7 linked regions of the Homo sapiens genome follow. The protein of the gene in region 1 purifies or fractionates together with the protein of each later gene. This does not show direct contact. Each region holds a gene or a part of one and is shown on either strand. Other genes may lie near its edges. The genes, in order: SGO2, HEPHL1, LYG2, PADI3, KIF2C, PREP and LYPLA2.

Region 1 (4,038 bases):
TTACTATGTTGTTAAATCAAATACTGTGGTCAGGCCCAGTCTCTTTTTACTTGATCTGTGAAAAGCATTTAATATCAAGTCATTCCTTCCTTTTGAAATACGCTCTTCACTTGGTTGCAAAATAGCACATTCTTCTGTTTGTTCTGAGGCAGGATTTTCTCCTGCCTCGCTGACCACTTCTCAGTCCCTCTTGCTGGTTATTCTTCATCTCCCTAACCTCTTACCACTGGAGTGCCCCAGATCTCAGTCCTTGGATCTCATCTCTTTTATATTTACATATACTCCCTGGACTATCAGCCAGTATCCTGGCTTTTAAATCTAAATGCTGATAACTCTCAAATTTGTGTTCCCAATCTAGACTTTTCCCTTGAACTCCAGATTTATTCATCCAACTGCCTACTACGCATCTCCAACTAGGATTTCTAACACACATCTCAAATTTAACATGTCCTAAACTCCCCCCACCCCAACCTACTCCACCATGTCCTCCCTAGCTCACTTAATGACAACTCCATTCTTTCAGTTGCTCAGGTCAGAAAGTTCCTTTCATATCCCACATCTATTCTATGATCAATTATGCTGACCCAGCTTTCACAATATATCCACCTGGGCTACTTACCACTATTTCTACTGCTACCACTTTGATTCAAGTTGCCATTCTCTCCCATGTACATTATTTGCTATAGCTACGTGAATGGTGTCCCTGCTTCCATTTTCTCCCCGACTATCTATTCTTAACCTAGCAACCACAATGATCCTTTTAAAGCTTAAGTAAATTCATGTTACTCCCATGTTAAAAAAAACTCTCCAGTAGCTTTCCATCTCACTCAATCTTTAAAATGGCCTAGAAAGTACTATACAATTTGACACTTCTCTTCCCCAATTAATCATCAGTGAACCTTTCTAATCCTTTTCATTAATCTTTCTCTTGCTCAATAATCTCTGGCCACACTGCCTACCTTGACATGCTCTAAAGCAGAAACTTTTATTCCTTCTTCCCTTTGTATCAACTCTTCCTTCAAATGACCACAGGGCTTGCTCACTTCCTTCGAGCATTTGCCAAAATGTCACTTTCTTAGTGAGCCTTCCCAGTCCAAACTACTTAAAAACTGCACACTTACCCCCATTCTCCCCTTCTGTTTTATTTTTCTCCGTTAACTTATCAATGTCTAAGATAAAATTAAATAGTTAACTTATTATCTGTTTTCTCCTACTAAATTGTAAGTTCAATGAGGGCATAAACTTTTGTCAAATTTGTTTGCTTCTGTACCTTAGTACAGAAATGTGCCTGCCACATAGCAGCTGCTGGATAAACATTTGTGGAAGAAGTGACTATGAATGAATGGAAGAACTTTCCAATAGAAAAACCGCCCACTCTTGGAATGGGTCTCCTTTGAAAGTGTTAAGCAGATGTTGGGAGGTGTCAAGCAAATAACGGAAAGATGGTTTTAGAAGAAATTTCTGCAATGGGGAATAAGTTGAACCAGAAACCTTTCAAGATTAAGGCTCAACAGTTCTTTTAAACGTTTTGCCAGGAAGAAACTTTAAAATCAAAGATCACTATCTATCTCAAAGACAGTAGAACACAGAAACTCCCCACAAACTGTTGCATCTCACACACCTGAAAGGGATCCTAACATAGAAATCTAGTTCATCTCCCAAAAAATCCAGTCTGGAATATCAAATCTCACTTTACTAATTAGGAAACCACAGCTGGACTGCCCTCCCCAATAAGCTGGTTCTGACACAATTCCTTAATTTAATAAACGACACTGTCAATCGCCTATTCAAATCCTCATGCCAGAAATCTGGGAGTGTTCCTTGACACTGCCCTGCAACCCCCTACATCAATGACCTCACCAAGGGAAACTTTAGGAGCCAGAACCAGGCATTTGGGGTACTGTTCCAGGGTGATTTACCATATAGACACTGAGACATTATGATAGTGATTACAACTGTGTTGGAGCTCCAGTTCCAACGTTTCATAGCTATGTGATCTCAACACCTCTTCGTCTCAATTTCCAGATTTATAAAACCATAAAAAATAAGGGCATCTCCTTGTAGGGACTAAATGAGCCAATGTATGTACAGTGTCTAGTACGGGACCTGGTAAACTATCAGCACTCAATACCAGCACTCTGTGACACTTGTCCGGCCAGCATCTCGACTATCTCTAAATACGAAATACTCAGTTCCACATCCAATTCTCCTGAATTGGATACCTCATCTAAAAAATCATTGTCCCTATTCTCTACTGAAATCCTACCTGTACATCAAGCAGCTCAAGTTCTAAGTTCCAAGTTCTCCCTAGTCTTCCATCACCCCTTCGCCTTCAGCCAGCCTCTCCAAACGAGAGGGCTCCTTCGAGAACTTTGGCACGCAGTCCCTAACATTCATTCCGCAGACACGTACTGAGCGCTCACAATGCCCTAGAAACTGTTCAAGGGAGTAGAGCAGTCCCAGAGACAGAAATATCTTCCCTTAAGTAGCTGACCTAACTGGTGGCTCTCCCCGCTCGCCCTGCCGGACGCTCAAATCTCAGAAACAAGAGGCAGCGACTCAAAGCCAAAACAGGACTCCGTCAACGAACCCCTCGTAGCCGGAGAGGGGCCGCCGTCCCGGATCCCGGAGGACAGAGGGCGGAAGACGAGCCGGAGACCGAGGCGGACAGCGCCTAGAGAACCGACTCAAGAACGACACCGATCCCGACAGGGAGAGGGCGGTCACGTCAACTGCCGCAGGCCACTAACTTACCTCTCTTTCAGCGTGGGGCACCCCCACCCAGCTCCGGGAGCTCGGCGAGCAGCAGCGGCTGCGGCTTGGGTTTAAACGCCACAGCCGTTGGCGGTTGCCCCATCAGCCAATCGGGTCCTGCGAAGATGGAGCAAGGGAGGGCGGTTACTAGGAAGTGAAAGGCGGAAAGGGCGGGACGCCGCTGCTAGGGCAGGAAGGGGCGTGCCCAGGCGAGCCGGGGGCGGCACAGTCTGCGTGACAGGGGTGCTCTTCCGCCCTGTGTTGGTGGCGGTCCGCTGTCTCCTGAAGCGTTGATGGAAAAGGAAACTCTCCTCTGACATTCATTATCAATCACATGTCTGAAAGGCTTGACAGCCACCTCAAGTCTGTTAGAAGGTTTATGTTGTTTACTGGGATACTACCCACCCACATCTTACCATTTCTTCTGCATCCTTGCATTTCCAAGTGTGACGCCAGCACATTTAGTTTTCACTTAAAAGCTCTCCCCGTTTTTCTTTTAACTTTCTGGGGGAAAAGCAGCAATGACATTTCGTTGCAAACCCCGGATCTCATTAATATTTAGGTCTTGCACTAATGGTCTGTTTTAGCTGAATATACAAGAATGACGTTTTCCATTATACACAACTACATTTTAAAAATGTATTATTCACCTTATATTCCATGTCAATTCGCTTATTTTTCGCAAATTACTTTCATAATTTTTACAAAGAATTTGGAGAAACTACAAAGAATAAAATTTCCTCTTTGTATGCCATTGGACTGAAAATGAAAATAGCTTGTTAAATCAAGGTTCCAATAATTGATGATACAGTAATGCAGTCAGCTTCATATTCTTGTCAATTTTTTGTTCATTCGAAGACATTTGAGAATTACAGCTTTCCATTTTTACTTTAAAGAATCTAGACAAATGATGCAAAACATGCTTTTGAGTTAAGATCTTTTAGTCTAATATAAATCACGATCAGTCTCCAAACAGATCTGGTTACATGAATCTTGTGTAAGTAGAAAAGTATTTACTGATTGTCCAGCTGCTAAAATTCCAGAAGACAGTGGTTTACAAAGTAATATACTGGTTATAGAAATTTATGCTTACCTAGGAGTTAACTAGCACTATATCTTGTTTACCCAGCCTGACACATTAAATGCTCAATGTATGTTATATGTTTTTTTAAATGAACCTTGTAGTGACTGTGCCATTTAATGGTTATTTAATCTTGGCCAAACTACTTAATCTCTCTGGGCTTCTGTTTCCTTATTTGTAAAATGGAGTTAAACAGCATCCCA
Region 2 (3,500 bases), on another chromosome or scaffold:
AGCCACAAACTGGAAGCAAATATTTGTGAGTCACATCACTGAAAAAGGATTTGTATCCAGAATATATAAAGCCCTCAAACTCTACAATAAGGAAACAAGTAACCCAATTTTTTTAAATGGGCTTACAATTTGGACACTTCACCAAAGATTTACAGATGACAGATGGTAAACAAACACATGAAAAGATGCTCAATATCATTAGCCACTGGGAAAATGTAAATGAAAAACAATGAGATACCACTATATCCCCTCCCCAAGGAGGGAATGCCTAAGGGAAAAAAATGAAATAAAAACTAAAAATACCAACTGCATATGTGGATGTGCAACATATGGAGTTCTCGTATATTTCCTTGGAAATGCAAAATGATACTGCCTTTTTGGAAAACAGTTTGGTGGTTTCTTATGAAATCAAACATACACTTATCACATGGCTTAGCAATCCTACTTCTAGGTATTTTCTCAAGGAAAATGAAAACATATGTTCACACAAAAACATGTGCACAAATGTTTGTAATGACTTGATTTGTAATAAACAAACTTGAAAATAACTCAAATGTTCCTCAACAGGAGAATAGATAAACAAACTGCATTATATCCTTACAATGGAATACTACTCAACAGTCACAAGAAACAAACCACTGATACACATAACAAGATGGATACAATTTGAATGCCTATGTTAAATCAAACAAGCCAGATTCAAGATGCTACAACCTATGATTTCCACATAACCTTTCAAAAAAGGCAAAACTATAGAGACAGTGGTTGACAAGTGTTAAGTATGGGGAAGTAGTTGACACTAGAGGGTGCAATGGTAAAATTTGTGGGGGAAATAAAAGTATTCTATATTGTGATTGTTGTTCGTTACACTACTGTATGTGCTTATCAAAAGAGAACTGTACACTAAATATGGTGAATTGTATTCAATGTAAATTATATCTTATTTTTAAAGTGTATATGTAAATTTTTATAATTTTGTGTATTAAATTTTATAAATTTTTAATATAATTTTTAAAATGTGAGTTTAAAAAAGCCAAATTCTGAAAAGCAGCATAGCCATTTAATATGTGAAACTCTAATCATAGCAGGCTAATACTTGGTGTCGTAAACAACGTTGAAATATACAAAGGAGAAAGGATATTAAATGTTTTATTAAAGTTACCGTTTATTCGTGTCTAACTAGAAAAGATCAATTCCAGTTTTCTCCACACATTGGATATGATTGTTCTTTTCTATTCCACTTCCTTGTAGAAAGCACTGAGAACTTCGGATGACAGACTATTTGGACCTTTCCATGGAGATTCTGATTCAGCAGGTCTGGGTCGGGCCTGGCAGTTGGGTTTTTACATAGTTCCCCAGATGGCTCTGCTGTACAGTGAGCACCACCCATATGGTACAGCTTGATGCTAGAGGGTAGAAAGTCACACATGGTCCAGCCCAGCTCACTAGGGCAAAAGTCAAGATAAAGTTTCAGGGCTTAGGCCAGAGCTCAAAATAGCTCCTTTACTGGATAGAGCTATTCTGTTAGCTAATCACACAGAAAAAGAAAAGGGTGGGGAGAAGGAAAGGGAAAGAAAAAAGGAAGGGTGAGGAAAAGGGACGAATGCTGTCAGTGTCCGTGGTTTCATATACAATATTAACAGCATATTCCAGGGTGGTCAGAGTTATCCCCAGATCACTAATGAGAAAACTCTCACCTGAGGCTTGGAGAGATTTTTATAAGCACAATAATATACATATACATATTAAGAAATAGCCAGGCCTGGCGTGGTGGCTCACGCCTGTAATCTCAGCACTGTGGGAGGCCGAGGCGGGCAGATCACGAGGTCAGGAGATTGAGACCATCCTGGCTAACATGGTGAAACCCCGTCTCTACTAAAAAATACAAAAAAAATTAGCCAGGCGTGGTGGGACACACCTGTAGTCCCAGCTACTCGGGAGGCTGAGGCAGGAGAATGACATGAACCCGGGAGGTGGAGCTTGCAGTGAGCTGAGATTGTGCCACTGCACTCCGCCCTGGGCAACAGAGCAAGACTCCGTCTCAAAAAAAAAAAAAAAAAGAAAAGAAATATCCACCAGGGAAACGGTACAATCACATTATTCTGTTCCATTCTCACCTATCCTCACAAGCATTATTGCCAAGTAACTCTTATTTTCCACTGGAAATACATTGAATTTGTTAGTTCAAAAACGTCTTTCCCAAAGCACTTTCCTTATACTTACTTTGAAAAGAAAGCTCTCAGCATGATAATGGATGGTATGTATGTCCACTTCACTTCCTATCCCTAACAAATACCAGTTTGTCATTGTATCTTCGTTCATTATGAGGCCATGGAGATTCCCAAAAATCTTTCCATTAATGGCTTTAAAAGGTGATAAGAAAATAACCTTTGGTTAGTTAAAAGATAAGCTGATTTTTTAAATGTTTCCAGAAGATCTTTAGGTCACTGATATTTTCATCTGTCTAGTAAACATGCAACAATCTCACTCACCCCTAGCAGTGTCCTACCATTCTAGACCCAAAATTCAGATAACTGAGAAATCCTTCTACAAAGAGAGCGAGAACAGAGAAATAGCAGTTTTAAAGCCGTATCTTGGTGGCAGTGTTTTGTTTGTTTATTCAGCATAATCTCTTTATGAAGGGAAATACAGTCTCATTGGAGAGGTAGTCAGATTTATACCACTCTACAGAGAACAAATCAAGGCATAAACAAGTTTATGTAAATAAAAATTGAGTGACTTAGAAGGTATTTTCTTAATATTTCACTTGTTGAGAATAGTTTAAGCCTGGCTGAATCTCCAAAAATAAAAGAGAGCTTCACACGGGCTGAGCTCATGACCTAACAATGACCAAAGCAAACTGAGTTTACATGATGGTGACTCCCACTCCTCCACTGTCTACTGACTTTTGATTCTGTGCATTGTGGTGCAACCAAATGACCTGCATTCATTAAAAATGGAGAGCATACTAAGACATCTTTAGGAGAAGAAAGCAAAACTGGTAGGGGAAAGAGTAGCTGAATGGGGAATCAGGCTACTATATTCTAATCTATATTAACAAGTAGCTTTGTGACCTTGGGCAAGGCCTTTTTGTGCACTTTTGGTCAAAAATAGCTGTTGGTGAGAAACTGTGGATGTGTCAATGTGAACACATTACTCCCACCAACAAACTACCTTAAATTATGTAGAAGTAACACAGATACATTAAAACAGAAATTTGATGGTAGTGTTTCATATCCCAGAGACAATTAAACCTGGCCCTTAAATTTAAACAAATAGAAGTTATGGCATATTCTTATAAAAATATGACAATAAATGATGATTTGTTTTTAAAGAATTACTTTACAGTCTTAGAGCTTAGAGATCCCAGGATTCAGAAATACATGTCCCTACAAGTTAGTACAAAGCCTCAATGACTTTGCTGCCAGCCAATCAGTGGCTAGGCTGGTTCAGTCTGAAGGAAAGCATTAGAGGACTTTCTTCAGTCCAGGTGCCCCTGG
Region 3 (3,500 bases), about 100 Mb from region 1:
GATACTGAACCTGTCAATATAAGGACACTTGATCCAGATAATTTAAACAATCCCTTTCTGTCTCATTCCTTCATCCATCCAACTATCCATTCTTCCATTCAGCAAATGTTTATTAAATGTCTACTTTGTGCCAAGCATTGTTCCAGGTGCTGAGGAGGATATAGCAGAGAAAAACATCTAGTATCTGACCTAATGAAATTTATCTTCTAGTGAGAGGAACGAACAGTAAGAGAGTGAGAGGAAAAAGGGAAGAGAGAGGGAAAGAGTGAGAGGAAGGGAGGGAGATAAAAACATTTCACCTGTAAAAATTTTTGGGCTGGGCACGGTGGCTCACACCTGTAATCCCTGCACTTTGGGAGGCCGAGGCAGGCGGATCAAGAGGTCAGGAGATTGAGACCATCCTGGCTAACACAGTGATACACCATCTCTACTAAAAATACAAAAAATTAGCCAGGTGTGGTGGCAGGCACCTGTAGTCCCAGCTACTTGGGAGGCTGAGGCAGGAGAATGGCATGAACTTGGGAGGCGGAGCTTGCAGTGAGATAAAAACATTTCACCTGTAAAAATTTTTGGGCTGGGCACGGTGGCTCACACCTGTAATCCCTGCACTTTGGGAGGCCGAGGCAGGCGGATCAAGAGGTCAGGAGATTGAGACCATCCTGGCTAACACAGTGATACACCATCTCTACTAAAAATACAAAAAATTAGCCAGGTGTGGTGGCAGGCACCTGTAGTCCCAGCTACTTGGGAGGCTGAGGCAGGAGAATGGCCACTGCACTCCAGCCTGGGCGACAGAGTGAGACTCCATCTGGAAAAAAAAATTTTTTTTTTTAATGTGTCTCTAACATATAAGGACCAGCTCTGGCACAAAAAGATGTTCCTGGTTCATCTTGAACATTTCCTGCCCCAGGCAGGCAATCAGCCATTATTCTGAGGAGCGCTGGTTCCACTTAGCAGGAAATGGTATTTAGAGACCACAGTGTGGGAAGTAAAAGTGCTCCATTGCTATGGAGCTGTCGTTTATTTCAGGTGTTTTCAGTGGCAGGAACTAGAAAATATATATTTTTAAAAGGAAAACAACTATGCATTCAGATATTTCACATTTATATTTAAGAATGCAAGCATTTTACATCAGTTTTATATTTGTACCTCTGCTATCTTACACTAAAAATCCTAGTTCTAATGACATTAGCATTATTACTTATTTACATACAATAGTGTCAAAATAAGTATGACAGTATTACCAACCAACAATGAGACAGTAAATATAATTTAAGATTTTCTTGTGATTATTTATGTTCACAGGATGGATTCCTATGTAGTGGTATAGACTTATATGGATATATTTTAAAGTCACTTAAGATAATTCTCCTCTATGTGTTTATTAATCTTTCAATTTGTTATAGAGTTATGTTCATTTGTTCTTCTTTTTTATGATTCCATTTTTCCCCATTTGATTTAATTTTAAAATTTATGATAACATTTACATGGTTCCAAAATAAAAACTTTAAAAAAGATAGTTAGTCTATCCCCTATCCCTGTTCCCTTTACCTTCCTCTTACTCTCTCCATAACTAACAATTTTTATCAGTTTTTCATTCATCCTTGTATTGTTTCTTTTGAAAATATGAGCAAATCACACAAAATATACGATTGTATTTTCTTACCTTTCTTACACAAAGAGTACAATTCTATAAATACTATTTTGTCCCTGGAGAGAATTTTACAGGAGTATATACAGGTCTTATTCTTTCCTTTTGCAGCTGCATAGTGCTCCACTGTGGACGTAGCATCACTTACTCAACCAGTCCCTAAATTAATGACATTTGTGTTGTTTGCAGTCCTTTGCTCTTATCAACAGTGCTGGAATGAACAGCCTATCACAAAACTGTGTTCCACAGCAATGTGTGTGACAGCCTATTTCCTCACAACCTCTCCCACAGAGGGTATTGCCAAACCTTTGGGCTCTTGCCAACTAAAGAGTTGGAAAATGCAGCCAGGCGTGGTGGCTCACGCCTGTAATCCCAGCACTTTGGGAGGCCAAGGTGGGCGGATCACAAGGTCAGCAGATCGAGACCATCCTGGCTAACATGCTGAAACCCCGCCTCTACTAAAAATACAAAAAATTAGCCGGGTGTGATGGCAGGCGCCTGTAGTCCCAGCTGCTGGGGAGGCTGAGGCAGGAGAATGGCATGAACCCAGGAGGCGGAGCTTGCAGTGAGCCATGATCGCACCACTGTACTGCAGCCTGGGCGACAGAGCAAGACTCTGTCTCAAAAAAAAAAAAAAAAAAAGAGTTGGAAAATGCTGTTATAATGATGTTTTAATGTGGCCTTTCTCTTCTTTTGAGTGTGGTTTAACGTCTTTTATATGTTTAAGGACTATTTTCTTTTTTTGTCTATAAACTCGCTATATATTCTGCTGATAAGGTGATATTTGGACAGAGACCTGAAGGCATGATCATGTAGATACCAGGAGGAATAGCATTCTAGGCAAAAGGGACCACAAACATACAGGCTTTGAGGCAGAAACCTGCCTGGCATGTTGAAGGATAAGCACAAAGAAGAATGTGGCTGGAGGAGAGTGAACAAAGGGAAAGAGAAGTAGGAACAGGAGCAGAGGGCCACATCTAGTAGGTCTTGGAGGCTGCAGGATGGACTTGGCTATTCCCCTAAAGGAGGAGAAAGCCACTGGAAGGTTAAGAGAGAAGACTGATAGCAGCCCATGCATATTCCCACAGGGCCACTCCGTCTACTAAGTAGAGGATGGGCTGCAAGAGTGAATCAGGGAGGTCAGTTAGAAGGCTGTTAGGAGAGTCCAGATGAGCAATGATGCTGGCTGGGACTATGGCAGAAGCAGAGGTGGGAGAAGTGGTTAGATTCTTTTTTTTTTTTTTTTTTTTTTTTGAGACAGAGTTTCGCTCTTTTTGCCCAGGCTGGAGTGCAATGGCGCGATCTCGGCTCACTGCATCCTCCTCCTCCTGGGTTCAAGCGATTCTTCTGCCTCAGCCTCCCGAGTAGCTGGGATTACAGGCATGCACCACCATGCCTGGCTAATTTTGTATTTTTAGTAGAGATGGGTTTCTCCGTGTTGGTCAGACTGGTCTTGAACTCCCGACCTCAGGTGATCCGCCTGCCTTGGCCTCCCAAAGTGCTGGGATTACAGGTGTGAGCCACCACGCCCAACCAGATTCTATTTTTTTTACATCAAACATTTTAACAAAATCCTTTTTTTTTTTTTTGAGATTTGAGACAGGGTCTTGTTCTGTTGCCCAGGCTGGAGTGCAGTGGCACCATCAAAGCTCACTGCAGCCTCGACCTCCCGGGTTCAATCAATCTTCCTGTCTCAGTCTCCCATGCAACTGGGACTACAGGCATGTGCCACTACACCAGGCTAATTTTTGTATTTTTTGTAGAAATGAGTTTTGCCATGTTGCATAGGCTGGTCTCAAACTCCTACGCTCAAGCAATCGTCCTGCCTCAGCCTCTCAAAGTGCTGGGA
Region 4 (3,500 bases), on another chromosome or scaffold:
TTTCTTGAGCAGTGAGTCTTAGGATGGGGAAAGGGAAGGAAGGGTACCCTGGTGCACTGAGCCATGCACTGGGCGTCTGGTGGCTGATTAACTCCTCCCTGCAACTGGAGGCAGGCTCAGCGGGATGGTGGTCTGACAAGTGCTATCCCACAGGGCTATAGGGCTTGAACCCAGATCCCATCAAGTTCCACAGCCCAGGTGGTTTGCTTGGTTCCACACAGCTCTTTCTCAAGGCTCAGGCATCAGCACAAACCTTAGCACAAAGTCTTGGTGCAGGAAGAAAGCTGCTTTCTTTTCTTCTTCTTTTTTTTTTTTTTTTGTTGAAGACAGGGTCTCACTCTGTTGCCCAGGCTGGAATACAGTGGTGCAATCTTGGCTTACTGCAGCCTGGACCTCCCCAGGATCAAGCTATCCTCCCGCCTCAGCCTCCCGAGTAGCTGGGACTACAGGCGTGCACCACCATCCCCGACTAAGTTTTGCATGTTTTGTAGAGATGGGGTTTTGCCATGTTGCCCGGGCTGGTCTTGAACTCCTGGGCTCAAGTGATCTGCCTGCCTGAGCCTCCCAAAGTGTTGGGATTACAGGTGAGAGCCACCGTGTCTGGCCCAGTTTCATTCTTAATGGGCAAAATCAAAATCCCAGGATGACCTCTGGTGGGGAGGGCCATCCTCAGGGCCTCTGTCATTGGCCCAGTGGTAAGAACAGACTGGACCCATTCCCACTGGGCTTTCCCATAACATGTGGAGATGCTTCCTGGAGTCTGTTGGGTTGTGGCTGCTCATGTGGCTGAGGGGCCCGCGAAGCTGGTCACCTTTGGGATTCATCACAGGTGGGCTTGGAGAGCAGTCCCCAGGCTGGTTCAGTGAGACATCTCTGGGGTCTTACACGCCACTTCATTTTTTAGTTGGGGAAACTGAGGCCTGGAGTGTGAAATGACTTGCTCAGGGTTACATAGTGAGTTAGGGACAGAGCTAAAACTAGAAACTAGGTCTTCCAATTCAAACGAAGGATCTCTGACTATTGGTGAAGAAGAAACTGAGTCACAGAGGTGCTGAGACTCGCCTGGATTGGAGGTCCTGGTGGGGCTTGTGGCGCCTCTGTGCTGGCAGACTTGGCTCTAAGGGCCCCAGAGCTCCAGGTGTTCTCAGATGCACGGCTGTGTAAGCCCTGCAGTCAGAAGGTCCTGGAAGGGTCAGGTCCCATCTGCATGGCTGCAGAGGGGCCCAGCGCACACAGCAGCCTAGAGGGCAGCTGAGTCTGTTCTCTAAGACACCTCGAAGAGGGGGCAACCTTGACCTGAGCGGGTGCACAGCTCTCGCACCTCAGAATGACCTCAAGTAACAGCACATGGAAAAGACAGAAGGCAGGGAGCCCATCACTAAGGTATCCCGGGCAGGTGTCTCCTAAGAGACCACACCTGGCAATGAGCCATGAAGCTCCTCTTTTCTCCAGCTCAGAGGTTCTCAACCCTGGAAGTGTGTTTCAATCACCTGGGGATCCATAAAAAAATTGATGCCCAGGCCCCACCTTGGGAAACCTGATTCAACTCATCTGTGAAAGGCCCCAGCACCCTAGGTTTTCAGGATCCGCTGGGGATGAATGTGCAGCTGGGGCTAAGAACCGCTGCCCTCACTGGGAAGACAAACAACTCATGTCACCCCTTTCTCTGCAGAGGCTGCCTAATGGAGCCAGGACTCCAAGTTTTGGTCCTAGTTCTGTGGTCACTCACTATGTCATCTTGAGCAACTTTCTACTCAACCCTGGGCCTCAGTTTCCCCATATGGACCCTGAAGGGGTTGGCATAGAACAGTGGGTTTCAATTTCCACTCATGGAGGCCTCTGAGTCCCCTCCCTGATTTGACAAAGCAGCTTCCATTCTGTCAACATCGGATTTTGTTTGATGCGAGAGCTCTGACCTGCCTGTGCAGAGAGCTGGGCCCTTGGGGGGATTGGTGCATTTCTGCTCTTTTAAATACGGGGGATTTGGAAAAAGGGTATACGGGGCTGCCACTTTCCAGTGGTGGGGTGGGGCAGGGCCACCCAGATTACAGTGGGACCATGATTTCCTGAACCTGATTCTATTGATGAGGCTGGCAGCGTCGGCGGATCTGGGATCCTCGCTGACTGGGGAGGGGCAGCTGGAACTGCCACCCAGAAACCCAGCTGCCTGGGTCTTGGTCTCCTCTGCCCCCACATCCCAGCTCGGTGGAGACCTCGTTGGTCATCTTGTCAACCTTTCGGTGTTCAGCCATGGGGAACTTTCCCATCAGTTTCTCAGCTCCTAAAATGTCTGATTTTGTTCTCCCAGAAGTCCAGGCCCTGAGTCCATGAAGGGAGAAGATGGGTTTGGGTTTGCAGGCGAGTGGGGACAGAGCTGGCCATGAGTCCTGGCTCTGTCACTTGCTAGCTGTGTGACTTTGGGCAAATCACCTGCCGTCTCCAAGGCTCAGTATTCTCATCTGTAAAGTGGGGATAATAGCACACAAGTTATGTGGCTGTGGGGGATACCTTCCTCACCAATGCCCCGTCTTCCTCCTCACCATTGAAGGGGGTGATACACGAGGGGGATGGGCTCACACTGAGTCAACTCTACACGGGCTGGAGGGACCAGGCTCCAGCATTTTTTTTTTTTTTTTTGAGATGGAGTTTTGCTCTTGTTGCCCAGGCTGGAGTGCAATGGGGCTATCTTGGCTCACTGCAACCTCCGCCTCCCAGGTTCAAGCAATTCCCTGCCTCAGCCTCCCTAGTAGCCGGGATTACAGGCATATGCCACCACGCCCGGCTAGTTTTGTATTTTTAGTGGAGACGTGGTTTCTCCATGTTGGTCAGGCTGGTCTCGAACTCCTGACCTCAGGTGATCCACCCTCCTCGGCCTCCCAAAGTGCTGGGATTATAGGCGTGAGCCACTGCGCCTGGCCCACCAGGCTCCAGCATTTCTAAGACAACCTACTCTAAGCCGTGATTCTCAGATGTCAGCAAATATCAGAATGGCTTAAAATGCGGTTCCAAGGCCCCACCTGGAGCACTTCTAAGAATCTGCATTTTCAATAAGGTGGGTCTGAGGTTGGCTACTTTTAGGGAGGCCAACTGTTCCTGTTTGTCTGGGACCTTGCAGGTTTTAGCACAGCAAATTCTGTATCCAGGAACAGCCTTAGTCCCAGCAAACTGATGCTGTTGGCCACCCTACCACATTTTACCCCCAACTCACCATCTTAGGCTGGCTGTGCCAGAGGAGCAGTTGAGTTCTCCGGCTGGCTTGGGGGGTGTGGGGCTGGGAGAGCCCTGGACAGGCCTGTGCATGGAAGCCTCAGCGGCGAGGGTCCAAGGCCCTGAGCCCAGGACTGGACCAGAAGCACTGCCTAGAAAGCCCAGAAGCCAGCATGTGACAGCTCAGCCATGCTGGCAGCTCGAGGTGGCCTGGAGAGGAAGGACTTTGTCCAGGTGAGGCTCCAGGTACTTCCCCTGTTCTCTAGGAAATGGGAAGCTAGATCCTCCCGTAC
Region 5 (2,215 bases), on another chromosome or scaffold:
CAGCCTGGCCAACGTGGCGAAACCCCATGTCTACTAAATACAAAAAATTAGCCGAGTATGGTGGCGGGCGCCTGTAATCTCAGCTACTTGGGAGGCTGAGGCAGGAGAATTACTTGAACCAGGGAGGCAAAGGTTGTAGTGAGTCAAGATCGTGCCACTGCACTCTAGCCTGGGTGACAGAGCAAGACTCCATCTCAGAAAAAAAAAAAGAGAAACTAGTGCCTAGACCAAACTGTGTCCGTGTTCATGGGATTGGAATGAGGACATGAGATTCATGAACCATTTAGATATACAAGCATGAAAATCTTACAAGGTACCCCCCAAAATATGTACTCTCTCTCTATATATATATGTTTTTGAGACAGAGTCTCACTCGTCACCCAGGCTGGAGTTTAGTGGTGCAATCTTGGCTCACTGCAGCCTCCGCCTCCTGGGTTCAAGCGATTCTCCTTCCTCAGCCTCCTGCGTACCTGGGATTACAGGTGCGTGCCACCATGCCTGGCTAATTTTTTGTATTTTTAGTAGAGATGGGGTTTTACCATGTTGGCCAGGCTGGTCTTGAACTCCTGATCTTAAGTGATCCGCCTGCCTCAGCCTCCCAAAGTGCTGGGATTACAGGTGTGAGCCACCATGCCCAGCCTATATATCTGGTTGGTTTTTGTTTGTTTGTTTGTTTGTTTGTTTTGGGGGGGGATGGAGTTTCGCTTTTGTCCCCCAGGCTGGAGTGCAACGGCACCATCTCGGCTCACCACAACCTCCACCTCCCAGGTTCAAGCAATTCTCCTGCCTCAGCCTCCCAAGTAGCTGGGATTACAGGCATGTGCCACCACGCCCAGCTAATTTTGTATTTTTAGTAGAGACGGGATTTCTCCATGTTGGTCAGGCTGGTCTCGAACTCCCTACCTCAGGTGATCCTCCCGCCCCGACCTCCCAAAGTGCTGGGATTACAGGCGTGAGCCACCACGCCCAGTCGTATATCTATTATTTAAAAAGAATCATTTGACCGGGCGCAATGGCTCACGCCTGTAATCCTGTCACTTTGGGAGGCTGAGGCGGCCACATCAACTAAGGTCGGGAGTTTGAAACCAGCCTGGCCAACATGGTGAAACCCCGTCTCTACTAAAAATACAAAAATTAGCCAGGCATGGTGGCAGGCATCTGTTATCCCAGCTACTTGGGAGGCTGAGGCAGGAGAATCACTTGAGCCCAGGAGGCGAAGGTTATAGTGAGCCGAGATGGTGCCACTGCACTCCAGCCTGGGCAACAGAGCAAGACTGTCTCAAAAATAAAATAAAATAATCATTTGGCCAGGTGCAGTGAGTCATGCCTGTAATCCCAACACTTTGGGAGGTCAAGGAAGGAAGATCACTTGAGCTCAGGAGTTCGAGACCAGCCTGGGTAACATGGCCCCATCTCTACAAAAAATAAAAATAAATAAATATCCCAAAGGTGGTGTGTGCAGCAAAAATTATAATAAAAAGAACTGAGGGTAGGGATAGCATTAGGAGATATACCCAATGTAAATGACAAGTTAATGGGTGCAGCACACCAACATAGTTCATGTATACATATGTAACAAACCTGCACGTTGTGCACATGTACCCTAGAACTTAAAGTATAATAATAAAAAAAGAAAGAAAGAAAGAAAAAAACCATTTAGGGAGCAGAATTGAGGAGGATTTGGTGACAAGTACGGTGAAAGAATAAAGTCACTCGGGCTGGGCGCGGTGGCTTATGCCTATAATCCCAGCACTTTGGGAGGCCAAGGCAGGCAGATCACAAGGTCAGGAGATCAAGACCATCCTGGCCAACATAGTGAAACCCTGTCTCTACTAAAAAATAAAAAAAAATAGCCTGGTGTGGTGGCGCGTACCTGTAGTCTCAGCTACTCGGGAGGCTGAGTTGTATACCTATTATTTAAAAAGAATCATTTGACCGGGCGTGATGGCTCACGCCTGTAATCCTAGCACTTTAGGAGGCTGATGCAGGCAGATCAACTAAGGTCGGGAATTTGAGACCAGCCTGGCTAACAAGGTGAAATCTTGTCTCTACTAAAAATACAAAAATTAGCCAGGCATGGTGGCAGGCACCTGTAATCCCAGCTACTTGGGAGGCTGAGGCAGGAGAATCACTTGAACCCGGGAGGCGGAGGTTGCAGTGAGCCGAGATCACGCCACTGCACTCCAACCTGGCGACAGAGCAAGACTCCGTCTTA
Region 6 (3,500 bases), on another chromosome or scaffold:
TGGAGGTTTAAAGACTAAGTTTGTCCACAGTTGCTGTACATCTCCTACTTAACTCTGCCCCTAAGATAACCTCCTCCGTAGGCCATAGAGAAGATTATCCAAGGTTTCTGCAGTAAGCAGAGTTCTAGGGTAAGGAACTAAGTTATTCTCCAGTTCTGTATTTTAATAATTGTAAACTCTACAATGATAATGATGTTATAGATGACGTTGGCTCAGCATTTCTCCTGTAGTACCTTCTGGTTTTATAGAAAAAACCATATGATTAGTTATGGCCCTCTAGAATTGAGAAATTGAGACATTGAAGTCCTCTGTAATCAATAAGATGGGAGTTATAGAGCCCCGTTCCATCAGACCTGTGCAAAGACCCTTTTTTATACAAACACTTCTAACCATGATCCAGTCATTCGGTGGTCCACCTTCCCCTCCCTCTGAATAGGCTGTGTATATAAACAATGATCCTTTATCGAACCAGTATCGAAAATAAGACATCACCAGCTCAGATTCTTCCATGAATCTGAGCTTGTAGTTTTCAGTGAATTTAATACACTGGTTCTGTTGAAGTAACATATCCCATATAGGAATTCATTTAGTTTCCACAAGGATCTATCTTGCAGCCCATCCAGAGGGACAGGGTCTTAACTCCCACCCCGATAATGCATTCTTCTAGTGACTTCTTTATGGAATGTTTGCTATGGACAAAGCCTTGATGGGCGAGAAGCTAAATTAGGCATGAGACCTGCCTCAAACAGTCATTGAGTTTTCTAAGAGTGGTATTATAGGGAAGTTATCACAAAAGGAGTAAACATTCAGATTATTTTTGTAGTATATGATTTTTAAACATACTTTTCAAATCAAAATGTTTTATTTAAATTTTTCTGAAAATTTTCTGATATATATATATATATATATATATATATATATATATATATATATATATATATATATATATAAACAATTCAAACACTCCAGTGCTATGTAGAATAAAAGGTGAATATGTTTCTTTTTCCTATCACTTTCTAGACTCTTTTCTGCATTTACATACATATGAGCCTAGATACTTTATAGGACCTACAATGGTTAATGAGTAGGTTCTGTGAAATTTTAAACAAATGAAATTCCACGTAAAAGAATAGGAAACCTCTAATAATAGTTGAGCTTCTTAAAATTTTCATTACCCAATAACGTTTAGCAAACAGCCTAAGAGGAAATCTCTGGTGTCAGAGTCTCCAATAGGAGGTGTTGTATTGAATGCTTTACATACTTCATAATTAAAAAAGCTAATATGAAACACAAGTATTTGCCAGGAAACATTCCATAGTGATTAGAACATTCTGCCAGGGCCCTAAAGGACTGTACATGGCACGACAGTCTATAGACATGTTGCTTTTCCTTTCACAATTTCTTGTGGAATGTGCACTCCGGGCGCCTTCACTGCAAACCCTCAGGCTTTATTTACCTAGGCTTGTAATGGTCAGACAGTGTGGACATTGCACAGGTAATGCTTCAAAAATGAGGCTGTAACAAGGGATTTTAGATAATTTGGAATCAATCTCCCAAATTACCTAATGACTACAATTTAGTTCTATTATATGGTATGTGTCATAATTCAGTCATTACTCTAAAAGCAGTTTCCTTTTTCTCCTTATTCCCTTTAGAGTATAAATGAAATATGACAGAAGTCCCAGATGAGCTCTGCTTTTAACTGAACTGCCTATTGCATTATAAAAATTTCAAAATGAAAGCATTTTAGTAGGCATATAATCTAATATTTCATTTTATAGACAAATTAAGACCTGGAGAGGTTAGGAAGCTTGTCTAAGGTTATAAGGGTAATTCCTGTAAAACTTGGGCTGAGCCCCCGGGATTCCTCACTACCAGATTCCTATTCCTTTTATTGCCACATTCTACCTCCGTGTTATGAAAGAGAGCTTTGTTAGATGGCATAAAGGACCGTGGAGTTGTGTTCCGTGTTTGTCACTGGATGATTTCTCCTGTGTCCCATAGGTTATGCGTTCAGCGAAGATGGTGAATATTTTGCCTATGGTCTGAGTGCCAGTGGCTCAGACTGGGTGACAATCAAGTTCATGAAAGTTGATGGTGCCAAAGAGCTTCCAGATGTGCTTGAAAGAGTCAAGTTCAGCTGTATGGCCTGGACCCATGATGGGAAGGGAATGTTCTACAACTCATACCCTCAACAGGATGGAAAAAGTGATGGTGAGTGAAGACTTCAGATGAAGCACATTTTTCACAAAATGAAGTGTGACTTCAAGTGACTGAAAAGAGATGCTGAACCCTACATAGAGGTTGTGTGGTCCAGAACCATGTTTCCTCAAAGGATGTTGTATCAGTTGGCTTTGCTGTGTAATAGACCCCACCAAAATGTAGTAGCTTAGAATAATAAACATTTGTTTTTGCTATGAGCCTATGGGTTGGCCAGGTAGTTCTTCTGGCCTTGGCTGAGTTCTAACATGTATCTGTGGTCAGCTGCAGGTTAGTTGGTTCATCTTGGCTTGGCTCTTTTACATTTCTGGGCCCTCAGCTGGGACGACTAGCAGACTAGCCTGGGCTTGCTCACATGGCAACTCAGTAGAATTGCAAGACGGGGAGCTGAATGACACAGCCTTCTTAATGCCTAGGCTTGCTCCTGGCACGTCAGATTTGCTGCATTCTGTTGGCTAAAGCAAGCCAGAGGGCCAGCCCCTTTTCAATGGGTGGAGAAATAGATACAGGGAACTGCGGAAAAATGAGATCATTATTACAATCAATCAGTCCCTTATAGATGTGTTATATCTCCTAAGGAGATTATGGAGAAGGTGAATTTTTAAACCGAACCAAGCTATTTGATTATGTTGAGTGATTATAAAACTTTACTGCTACAGTAATCGCATATTCTCCTCTGATCAGAAGTTATAGGTCACCTGTTGGTTGCCATTTATCTTGATACTTTTCTCCTTGTTACTTTCTGGACACACCTTTATTGTTCTTCTCTTTAATTGCACAAAGATCCTGTTGTGTTCAAGGGGTTCCTCCCTCTTTGCTCCTTCACTTCTAAATTTTCCCAGGCAGGAAGGGCTATGTACCTTGTACCTTACTGGTACAATGTGTCATTTTCTTCCTTTTGCTACCCCACATTTCAACGTGGTATGTAGCATTTTCTTGTTATGTTGGTTGGTCTTTACAGGTAAGTTTTACAATCCCTGTGTTAGAGATTAGGAGCTTGGGCACAGAGGCTCAGTAATTTGCTGGAGGGCTGGGATCTGGCAAGAAGCACAGCTACTCCAGTGCTTTCTGCTGTACCTGTTGTCCCCTTATCATGACTTGTTGTATCTTTGTCATCTTTAAATATCCTTGCTTTCTTTTCTGTTTTTTTTTTTCCCCCACAATTGAATTGAGAATAAGGCTACAGTGTTTTTCATCTCTTGGCTATGTTTAGCTTTTTCTGCCTTTTGATTAGGCTACATCAAGACCTTTTTTATAAATTCGCCAATGAATTACAAGAT
Region 7 (4,113 bases), on another chromosome or scaffold:
TCTGGGCCTGGGGGAAAGTGCTTTGTTGAGCTTCCAACTTTGTACTGTTTTCTTTTTCTTTTCTTTCTTTTTTTTTTTTTTTTTTTTTTGAGACAGAGTCTCGCTTTGTTGCCCAGGCTGGAGTGTAGTGGCACTATCTTGGCTCACTGCAAGCTCCGCCTCCCGGGTTCACGCCATTCTCCTGCCTCAGCCTCCCCCCGAGTAGCTAGGACTACAGGCGCCCGCCACAGCGCCAGGCTAATTTTTTGTATTTTTAGTAGAGACAGGGTTTCACCGTGTTAGCCAGGATGGTCTCGATCTCCTGACCTCGTGATCCGCCCGCCTCAGCCTCCCAAAGTGCTGGGATTACAGGAGTGAGCCACCGCGCCTGGCTGTACTGTTTTCTTTCTGTTCAAAGAAAACACTAGTATAGGTTAGGCTGGGAGAGTGAGTCCTAAGCGGCTGAGGGTCAAGTGTGACTCATTTCCTATTTGCAGATCCCCACACATTCTCAGGGACATGCTCCTTCAACTCAGTTTGCCTGCCTTCTGACTTTTCTGTGGTCCCTGATACCTATTTCCACTTCAGCTTGATGGCAGCGTTTTGTGCACTGTCTGCATGACATTGCTTGTGAAGGGCAGCGCTAACACTGCCAGTGCCTGTCCAGCTCTCCTGATACGGCCTTTGTATTTTTCCTAGGTCCTTTTTTGCGTGATTAACACCTCACGCTGTGATTTTACTGTATAAACCATGTTCACACAACCTCATTTAAGCCTACCAACAAAGCTGTGAAGGAGGCAGGGTGGTTATTACCATTTTATATATCAGGAAGCAGATCCAGAGAGGCAGAATTTAAATGGAATCCCGAGGTTGCTGTTTACATGCCTTCCTTGAGCCTCAGTTTCCCCATCTTCAAGGCTGGAGAACTAGATGATCTGTAAGGTCTCTTCGGTTCAGAGTGTGTCATTCCATTCATGATCCTGGAATAGGGCATGAAAGCCAGTGGCAGACACCCGAGGCCTTAAGAGGTGTGTCCCATGAGGATGGGAAGGTGGTAAAGTTTATGCAAACAATAGTGTGAGGGATGCCTCTCCTTCCGGTCGGCCCTCCTCCAGGAGGCGCATGGGTGGTGGTAGCAAGTGGGAGTCTTGGGTGCCCTGTCTCGAATCTACAAGGTGGGAGCGGGTGAGAACCCAGCGACTGCGCGGCTGAATGACAGGGAGTAGCCCCGCCGCCTCCAACATGGCAGCTTCTATCCAGCGAAGCCGGGTCCCCGCTTCCGGGTTCCGTACTGTCGGCCAGGCTACTTCCGGCAGCGCGATGGCTGGGTTCCCGGGACTCGAACGGAAGTTCCGGCGGGGGCGGCCGAGGGGGAAGAGTGTGTCTGCGGGAGAAAGAGGAGAATCGCCCAAGCGGCCTCGGAAGTCCCAGGGAGTGGAGGTACCCAGCCGGCGGCTGCGGAGGATGGGCGTGTAGGGGGAGGTCGGCCTCGGGAGGGTCCCGGAGAGCGGGGAGGGGGAACCGTGATGGGGGGGATGGGGGTGGGGAGTGAGGTGCGAAGGCGCTGTCCAGTCTTGGGGACTTCGGGAGTGGAGCGGGGCTAGGCAAGGGGGTGTCTGAGTATAAAGAGACAGACTTCAGGGTCGGAAATAGAAGAGCCCATTGTGGGGCGGGGGCTTCCCCAGAGTCAAAGGTACAAAGCTTTATTGTGGGCAGGTGGGAGTCCTGGGTCAGGGTAGAAAATTTCACTGGGTAGGGTGACCTTTGGTCAGAACAGAAGTTCCCATTGTGGGGAGCGGGAGATCCTGGGTCAGGGTGGAAGTTCTCAAGGTGTATAGAGAGAGACAGGTCAGGGGGAAGGCACCCCTCCGAGGAGGGAGCCTGGGCGGGAGGTGCAAGTCCCCACGGTGGAGAAGGAAGGGAATCGCAGCTCAGGGCAGGAGGTGCATTCCCCATGGGAAGAGGAACCCCGGGTCACAGGTGAACGATCCCATTGTGGGGAGCTGCCCTCAGGGGTCAGAGATGGAAGGTGAGGCCAGTTGGGAGGGGTGGGCAGGCACTTGAGGCAGGTAGTGGAAGCTTCCGGCGAGTTTGGAGGACGCCGAGGATGGGGAGGGGCCAGCCAGCCTGACATTCTTTTGTGTGTTTGGGAGTCCCAGAGCGTGGTCAAGCCAGGGCTCGTTTGCAGTCAGTGGCAGCAGCAGCAGGTAGCTCCGTTTAGGGGGGGCGTGGAGCACCAGTTTGGGGGTGGGTGGAGTTCTTACGCTTTCTGGGGACATGGGCAGCCCCCTGGGGGTCTGGGAATGGATGGGCCAGAAACTGCTGTGAAGGCTGGATGGGGGCTGGGTGGGGGGAGGTTGAGATGGGGGTTGGAGGCGGCACTGAGTAGGGGATGGAAGCTCCTTTCCCTGGCACTTTTCTCTCCATTTCCCATAGGGCCCGGAGTTGGGGAGGCAGGGACCCAGGGATGATTGGAGAGGAGGGGGAAGGCACTCACCCCTGAGGAGTTAGAGGGGGAATGAAGCAGGCGTGCCGCTGCCTCCCCTCTGCCCCCTGCCCTACAGTCCCTATGCCCTGCCTCTGCCTGTCTCCAGCAAGCTCAGGTCCTGTGGTTGGGCCAGAACCAGAGACACATGTTCTGGGCCACTAGGGAGGCTGTCTCTGCCTTTCAGCCCTGGAACTGAGGCAGACTTCTTCTCCTGTGCCCTGGGACTTCTTGCTTGACTATTCTTTGTGCCCAGGACAGAACCTGGGTGCTGTGTGGGGCTGATGGCCTGGTGGCCTCTTGGGCCAGGAGTGTGTCCTGTGCCTGGTTTTGCTCTTGACCGCCGCCCCGATGTATGCAGGCCCCCGCCGTGGAGCCGTGTGGTGTATGTGTGGTAACACCATGTCTGTGCCCCTGCTCACCGATGCTGCCACCGTGTCTGGAGCTGAGCGGGAAACGGCCGCGGTAAGGGTCCCCTTTCACCCACGGCCAGACACTGTGGGAGCAGCTGGAGGACCGGCTGGAGGGGGTGTGGGAAAATGGAGGTGGCAGTGATGAGCAGGGAGTATCCTGAGGCCAGCAGGCTCGGGGTAGTAACCTGTTTGGCTGCTACCTGGGTTCCCCCAGGTCCTTGGGGGTGGGGGAGGGGTGGGCAGAAGTTGGAGGACCTAGGGGAAGCCTTCCTGTCTCCCCATTTCCCATCCTTTTCCAGGTTATTTTTTTACATGGACTTGGAGACACAGGGTAAGTGACTGAGGAGGGGTGCTCCTTAAGGAGGGGTCCTGGCCCAGCAGCGGACTGGAGAGGCCTTCTCTTCCTACCACATCGGAGCCTTTTCTCCCGTCCCTCCTACAGGCACAGCTGGGCTGACGCCCTCTCCACCATCCGGCTCCCTCACGTCAAGTACATCTGTCCCCATGCGTGAGTGTCACCCCAGCAAGGGAGGGGCTGAGGCTGGGGATCATCTGGGGGTGGTCCTGTCATCCCAGGCCTGTTCTCTCCTGTCAGTTGCATCCTGGGGCTTGGGCTCAGGGCAGTCAGAAGTGGCATTTTCAGCCTGAGCTCCTGTGGAGCCCCCAGGAGTGGGGTCCAGCACCAGCCCCCAGCCCTAGGGCCTCCTAGACCTGAGCTCTCCTAGAACCCACACCTCCCTTTGCCCCTTCCCCAAGTACTCACCGACTACCTGGGACCCCGTCACACCAAGCGCTGGGCTCTGCTTCTCCATTACTGGCGCTTTGCCCCAACCACAGCCTCCAGCCCCACGTGGCAGGTTGCCTGGCAACACCTTAAACACAGGCCCTGCCTGCTGGGAGGGGCCACCAGGGGCGGCGCGGCCCCACTCCGGGCTCTGAGCTCTGGCCTCCTCATTCCTCCTGAGCATGATGGGCCCTCTGGCTCTCTTTCCCCAGGCCTAGGATCCCTGTGACCCTCAACATGAAGATGGTGATGCCCTCCTGGTGAGTTTGGGAGTGGGGGTGGGCAGGGGGACGAGGACACTTGGGCTGAGGGAGCCACAGGGGGCTGGCTGGGGTTTTCTATAGCTGCCAGTGCCTCTACTCCCAAGGTTTGACCTGATGGGGCTGAGTCCAGATGCCCCAGAGGACGAGGCTGGCATCAAGAAGGCAGCAGAGAACAGTAAGACCCCAGCC

The links.
Region 2: the proteins of SGO2 (region 1) and HEPHL1 purify together in Homo sapiens (affinity purification with mass spectrometry; 3 studies listed by BioGRID and IntAct, with this or other methods). This does not show direct contact.
Region 3: the proteins of SGO2 (region 1) and LYG2 purify together in Homo sapiens (affinity purification with mass spectrometry; 3 studies listed by BioGRID and IntAct, with this or other methods). This does not show direct contact.
Region 4: the proteins of SGO2 (region 1) and PADI3 purify together in Homo sapiens (affinity purification with mass spectrometry; 3 studies listed by BioGRID and IntAct, with this or other methods). This does not show direct contact.
Region 5: the proteins of SGO2 (region 1) and KIF2C purify together in Homo sapiens (co-immunoprecipitation; one study listed by IntAct). This does not show direct contact.
Region 6: the proteins of SGO2 (region 1) and PREP purify together in Homo sapiens (affinity purification with mass spectrometry; 3 studies listed by BioGRID and IntAct, with this or other methods). This does not show direct contact.
Region 7: the proteins of SGO2 (region 1) and LYPLA2 purify together in Homo sapiens (affinity purification with mass spectrometry; 3 studies listed by BioGRID and IntAct, with this or other methods). This does not show direct contact.

What each region holds. Positions count from the first base shown.
Region 1 is NC_000002.12:200,524,969-200,529,006, reverse strand, and holds the start of SGO2 (shugoshin 2), read right to left. Parts: upstream 2,801-4,038; 5' UTR 2,755-2,800; exon of another isoform or gene 2,267-2,754; intron 1-2,266. UniProt on the Homo sapiens protein: Cooperates with PPP2CA to protect centromeric cohesin from separase-mediated cleavage in oocytes specifically during meiosis I. Has a crucial role in protecting REC8 at centromeres from cleavage by separase.
Region 2 is NC_000011.10:94,104,854-94,108,353, reverse strand, and holds part of HEPHL1 (ferroxidase HEPHL1 precursor), read right to left. Parts: intron 2,364-3,500; coding exon 2,224-2,363; intron 1-2,223. UniProt on the Homo sapiens protein: Is a copper-binding glycoprotein with ferroxidase activity. It oxidizes Fe(2+) to Fe(3+) without releasing radical oxygen species. May be involved in the regulation of intracellular iron content.
Region 3 is NC_000002.12:99,249,167-99,252,666, reverse strand, and holds part of LYG2 (lysozyme g-like protein 2 precursor), read left to right. Parts: intron 1-3,500. UniProt on the Homo sapiens protein: May act as a potent antibacterial protein that may play a role in the innate immunity.
Region 4 is NC_000001.11:17,252,098-17,255,597, forward strand, and holds part of PADI3 (protein-arginine deiminase type-3), read left to right. Parts: intron 1-3,500. UniProt on the Homo sapiens protein: Catalyzes the deimination of arginine residues of proteins.
Region 5 is NC_000001.11:44,763,837-44,766,051, forward strand, and holds part of KIF2C (kinesin-like protein KIF2C), read left to right. Parts: intron 1-2,215. UniProt on the Homo sapiens protein: In complex with KIF18B, constitutes the major microtubule plus-end depolymerizing activity in mitotic cells. Regulates the turnover of microtubules at the kinetochore and functions in chromosome segregation during mitosis.
Region 6 is NC_000006.12:105,372,083-105,375,582, reverse strand, and holds part of PREP (prolyl endopeptidase), read left to right. Parts: intron 1-2,004; coding exon 2,005-2,214; intron 2,215-3,500. UniProt on the Homo sapiens protein: Cleaves peptide bonds on the C-terminal side of prolyl residues within peptides that are up to approximately 30 amino acids long.
Region 7 is NC_000001.11:23,789,832-23,793,944, forward strand, and holds the start of LYPLA2 (acyl-protein thioesterase 2), read left to right. Parts: upstream 1-1,313; 5' UTR 1,314-1,419; intron 1,420-2,720; exon of another isoform or gene 2,721-2,815; coding exon of another isoform or gene 2,816-2,851; coding exon 2,852-2,929; intron 2,930-3,176; coding exon 3,177-3,208; intron 3,209-3,319; coding exon 3,320-3,385; intron 3,386-3,640; exon of another isoform or gene 3,641-3,701; intron 3,702-3,873; coding exon 3,874-3,921; intron 3,922-4,028; coding exon 4,029-4,099; intron 4,100-4,113. UniProt on the Homo sapiens protein: Acts as an acyl-protein thioesterase hydrolyzing fatty acids from S-acylated cysteine residues in proteins such as trimeric G alpha proteins, GSDMD, GAP43, ZDHHC6 or HRAS. Deacylates GAP43. Mediates depalmitoylation of ZDHHC6. Has lysophospholipase activity.